2 separate regions of the Homo sapiens genome follow, and region 2 is linked to region 1. The links come from fine-mapping of genetic effects on gene expression. Tissue or cell type: adrenal gland. Region 1 holds a variant in brackets; the other region holds the start of a gene. All regions are shown on one strand. Distances are from middle to middle.

Region 1 (2,840 bases):
GCAGCTTAGCAGTGTAGACAGTTAGCTCATAATTCCTGCAGGGGTACAAGTGCCAAACCAAGTGCTATGATCCCTGGAGAGGCAGCCTCACCCACGAGGGCCTGGGGGCCTGAGTTCAGATCCTCACTCTGCATCTAACAAGCCGTATTGACCGGGGAGGGTCACTCAGCCTCTCCTGCCTCAGTTTCCTGATTCGTGTAACAGGGATAACATCAGCTGGCTTCCCTTGACACACCATCTATTAAACTGATTGATATGAATAAAGGATTTAGAATAGGGTCTTGAAGAAGGCGGTGCTGGACCCACGGACAGTGGCCAATGGGTATTGTTTGTCATCATCATCGTCACCATCACCATTGCTTTCGTCATAATCATCACTGTCACCATCATCAGCGTTCAGAGGAAAGGGGGTGTAGAGGGTCGTGTATCACCCAGAGGTGGATCTTGAGTTAAGCTTCGAAGCAGAGCAGGAGCCAGCTGTGCACGATGATGACATTAACAGCCGGCACTTTCCTCTGTGTTTTACACGCATGACAACGGGTTGACAGAAAAAGAGAGAGCTGGGCATCAGCCAAACAGAAAGTTGTGCACGGAAATACAGAAAAGGACTCGGCGATATTTATGAGCCCATGAAGTACAGAAGTAGTTAAGGATTGGAGTTCCAGTAAGAGCGCATCGCATGCCAGTCTTATCGTGCCTTGCTTTCTGGAATGATGAGACTCCCCTTCTCCCCTCCCCCCTCACCCACTCTGTCTCCCCCTGCCTCCCACCCTCCTACCTCCCCAAACTCTCCATGGACTGTTTAGGCCTTAACAACTCTGGAGAGCTATTAGGATCTATCAAGCGAACAATAATTTACTTCACGAAGTGATGTGTGTGATTTTCACCATTGACTCTAATCGCAACAGAAAATCATTTCAGTCGGCTGAGTGCATAATCTGTGTGTGCTGAACTTCTCTAAGCTTGGACTTACCTAAGGGAGGAAAATGGTCCCCTGGGACCCACTCAAGAGACGCGGAGTAAACAGCGTGCATTTCGTAAATGGGCTGGGGGTGTGCCAGAACCATCGCCGGGGACCCACCGCTGTCAGCCTAGAAGGCCATCGAACACTCAGAAACCATCTTCACAAATCCTTCTAGGGTGAGGTGGGGGGGTGAGGAGTCAGGGGTCGTGCACCTAACCATCAAAGACAGTGTGGATGTCCTGCTCATCTGCCACCGGG[T/C]GGCGCAAAGAGAAAAGGAGAGCAGACAGAGCAAGGAGGCACGTGTCCTTCCTCCTCCATCACATCTGCAGACTGAGCCCAAGCATCGGGAGCCATGTGGCCAGGCAGAAATGGGAAGTCATCTGTGCCCCTTGCTAGCGGACATGGTCCCAGGGACAGGTCCTGTCCTGTCCTGAGGCTGGAACTTCAGGAGTCCCAGGCCAATCATCACGCTACCAACTTGAGGAGCTTGAGATTTTCTAGTTTAGAAAGCAGGTACACAATTGTACATAGAGCACCAGCGTACCCAGGTATAAAGAAAGAAATATGCCAACCTGTTGGCCGTGGCTACCTTTCAGAGACTGGATTATGAGTTTTAGTATTTTCTAAAATTTTCTACAATGAATATGCAAGTAATAATAATAATATAAGATCTTACAAAGAAAAAAGTCTCAAGATTCCACTCTGACCATGTGTCCAAGTTCTAGCAACAAAATTAATGCCTAGGGAATGCCATGGCCAAGTCCCATCAGGACAGGGACTTACTTCACAACATCAAGAGATTTTAGTAAAAAGTGCAGGGGCCAGGGACAGTGGCTGTAATTCTGATGCTTTGAGAGGCCAAGGCAGGAGGATCGCTTGAGCCCAGGAGTTCAAGAACAGCCTGGGCAACATAGTGAGATCCCTGTCTCTACAAAAAAAAAAAATTGTTTTAGATTAGCTGGGAATGGTGGCATGCACCTGTAGTCTTAGCTACTCAGGAGGCTGAGGTGGGAAGATAGCTCGAGCCCAGGAGGTCGAGACTGCAGTGAGCTGAGATTGCACCACTGCACCCCAGCCTGAGCAACAGAGCAAGACTCTATCTCAAAAAAGATGGGGGTTGGGGAGCAACAGAGCAAGACTCTATCTCAAAAAAGATGCAGGAAAAAGAGCACAGAGTGGAGAAGCAGAAGAGATTCTTAAGTTCTTGTCCTATAGGTAAGAGCTAAAACAAGTCACTTGCTGACCTAGAGTCTCAATATTCATGTCCCTTGACTGCAGGCAAAAGCTGGCCTCACCTCCTATGATTAATTGACACTTGTTGCTTCTCCCTGCTCGGGTTCCTTCCCCTTTCCTTTGCTGCCTGCTGCTGTCCTGCTCTGTGTAATTCGGCGTGGATGTCCCTGCTTCCCCCAGGTCAGGCAGGCTCCTGAGCAGCCCCCAAAGCACAGATGTAGTGCCCGATGGGGTGGGGAGGGGATGGCAGCCTGGCAGAGCTGAACACTTGGGGAAAGGGAATTTCTCTCCTTTGGGGCACTCAAGCACCGAGGGTCATGGAAGCCGGGAGCTGCCATGTTGCACAGAGTAAGTCTGTCTGAGAATGAAGCCAGCTAATGAGAAAACAGAGCAAAGAGATGGAGAAACTGAGGCCTGGGGATGTCACTTGAGCCATGACATCAGCATAGCCAAAGCCAGCCCCAGCCTCTGAAAAAAAAAAAAAAAATTTGGCTGGGCGAGGTGGCTCACACCTGCAATCCCAAAGTGCTGGCCTTGACTAAGGCCAAGGCAGTCGGCTCACCTGAGGTCAGGAGTTCGAGACCACCCAGGCCAACATGGTGAAACCCTGTCTCTCTACTAAAAAAAAAAAAAAAATACAAAA
Region 2 (2,500 bases), 93 kb before region 1:
CGTCGCCCAGGCTGGCACTTTTTAGGGCGCCGCCAAAGTGCCCAGCCACCCTCCCGCCCCATCCCAGGGGGGGCCGCGATCCCATCGCTTACTTGTTTGTCGCTGAGCGCGGCGATCCGCGGCTGCCTTTCGTGGAGCTGCTTCTTGAGGTCGCCGTTCTGCGGAAACACGGAGGAGCGGGCTCAGGCAGGCCACCCGGGGTCAGGTGCACCCCAGCACCGCGGGCCGCGGCACCCCCCGCCCGGAGCCCCACGGGCGGGGCCGGCCGCAGCGCACCCCAAGTTTCCCGGGCCGCGTCCTGCACGCGCGGCGGCCGGGCAGTGCCGCGCGGGGCCGCTTACCTGTGGCTGCCGCCTCATCGGGGCAGCTCGCGGGGCGGGGCGGGGGCCGAGGCCACCCGGCGGCGCGCCCCGAGCCGTGCAAGTTTGCAGGCCGGGGTGCGTGTGCGAGTGAGTGTGAGTGTGAGTGTGTGCCGGGGGAGGGGGGAGGAACAAAGAGCCAAGTAAACACGGCGAGTCCGTGTCGAGCAAAGCTCATAAATATTCAAGTCGCGTCCTAATCTCCCCAACACACACACGCGCACGCCGAGCCCCGCTCAGGCTCCGGCCGCCACGCCGCCGCTCGCCAGCAGCGATCGCCAAAACTACTTCTGCACACCGGGCAGGTTCGCCCGGGGCGCGGGGGCCCGAGGGGAGGCCGGAAGGGGGCCTATTCGCACTCCCCTCCCCGGGACCGGCTCACGAAGGGGCCCCCTCCAGGCACCCTCCCAGTCATGCAGACCCTACATCGCTTAAGAGAAGACTCCAGGCTCGGGTCCCACGCGTCCTCGATCCCGCAAACTGTGCAGGACAGCGCCAGGGGCAGGCGGAGGGGAGCCCAGAAGGGGGTCCGCGCGTGTGCTCACTCCCTCGCCCCCCGCCCCCGGGCAGGCTCCAGCCTGGAAGACCCAGAGACCCGGAAGAGAGGATGCTGGGCTCGGGTCCCCCGACCCCCTCACCCCGCAACACACTCCCCGGCCCCGGGCCCGGCCCCCGGCCACCTACCTGGTGGCGCGCGAGTTCCACGGCGAGCGCCTCGGGCCGGCTCTGCAGCTCCATCCCGGCAACTTGGGCAGCACTTTGCGCTCACTTTGGCCCGGGCTCCCGGGAAGTTGCGCGGCTCCGCGGGGGCCAGAGCGGGCGCGGGCGGACGCGGCCTCCGGGCTGGGTTGGGGGGGACACGAGCCCCCTCCCCCACGGCCGAAAGGGAAGGGGGCTGGCGAAGGGGAAGACAGGCTTCCGGGCGCCGCGGCGCCGAGCCCTCGGCTGCCCCAACTCCTCAGGCTGCCCGGCAAGTTGCGCCGGGTCCCCGGGCTGCCGGCGCGGCCCGGAGCATGGCCCCCCCGGCGCCGGGAGCCCCGCGCAGCCCCGCGCGCGCCCGCCCAGCCGCCGCCGCCGCCGCCTCCTCCCGCGCGAGCCTCCCGCGGGCAGGGACTATATTTCCTCCGGCGCGCGCGCCTGGATCTCGTTGGGCCTCGGCAAAGTTGTGCCTCGGCACGATGCTAATTCGGCAGTGCCCGGATGGAGCGGGCCGGGGCGGCGGGGGGCGGTGCCGGGACCCTCAGCCCGCCGCGCCCCGCCCCCGCCCCGCCCGCGCCTGCGCACTGCCGCCCCGCCGCGGCCCGGCACCCCGAGCGGAGAACAAAAGTGGCGGTGGACGGGGACGCACGGTCGCCGGCTCCGGGGACTGCTCGGGCCGGGCGCTCGGAGAGGACGACTGCGGAGTCATCCTCTCCGTCCCCGGGCCAACCCGGGGAACGCGGCGCCCCCACCCCCTGCGCCGTGTAACGCCGGGATCAGGACACTTTCCGCTGGGAGGCTGCGAGTCCGTGTTTCCATTTCTCCTCACCCTGGTCCTCGGCTCCCTCCTTTCCCCCCTCCTCCGCCTCCCTCTGATATTTTATTTAAATTCTTCCGTCCCCTCCTGTCCATACCAGCGCCGCGACTTGGGGGATTAAATTAGTCGCGTCGCCACATTCCCCCGCCGCCTGATGGCCTCCGTGTTGTTTAAACAGCAAGAAAATTGATCTCTTGGCTCTTCCTTTAATGATTTTTTTTTACACGATTAAACTCTCAACAGATGTCACTGGACATTTTAAGACTCTTGTTAAGAGTCGTAAACAGGCCCGGTCAATGCGACCTAAAACAATTATAATTACAGCTGCGGAGGTCGCGTTTCAGAACCCCCAGCCGCGCAGCCAGGAGGTTAATGTCCCAGAGTCACTGTCACCACCTCGGGGCTGCCATCTTCATTCAGGTCGGAGTGCCGGGTGCCCTGTTGGCAGCAAACTGGCACGTTTGAAACACGCTGGGGAGAAAGGGTGCAATCATATGTCAAAGTAAACGTTTAAGCTGTTAAGTCGTTTTAACTTCAGATTCCTCTCCGGCAGCACAAAAAATACCCAAGCAAGCACCATCAGCAAATGTCCCTTTCAACATATGCCAACAGGTCACACATTGCT

Alleles and levels. Positions count from the first base shown, and alleles are read on the strand shown. Sizes are in standard deviations (SD) of each study's normalised expression.
With allele C in place of T in region 1, the expression in adrenal gland of the gene that starts at base 1,553 in region 2 is higher (small effect, 0.36 SD a copy in GTEx).

What was found. PIP is the estimated chance that this variant, and not a neighbour inherited with it, causes the effect.
Region 2: PHF21B starts here. The variant in region 1 is fine-mapped to the expression of PHF21B in adrenal gland (GTEx, PIP above 0.99).

The regions. Positions count from the first base shown.
Region 1 is chr22:45,100,802-45,103,641 of GRCh38, forward strand. No RefSeq gene overlaps it. Among named protein-coding and RNA genes, the nearest start is that of NUP50-DT, 62 kb to the right of the region's middle. The variant T/C (reference allele first, on the strand shown) is at 1,223.
Region 2 is chr22:45,008,453-45,010,952 of GRCh38, forward strand. It overlaps PHF21B (PHD finger protein 21B), which reads right to left and starts at 1,553. Exons shown (of 13, transcript NM_138415.5): 1 at 1,044-1,553; 2 at 93-158. The coding sequence starts at 1,097. RefSeq lists an enhancer at 1-533.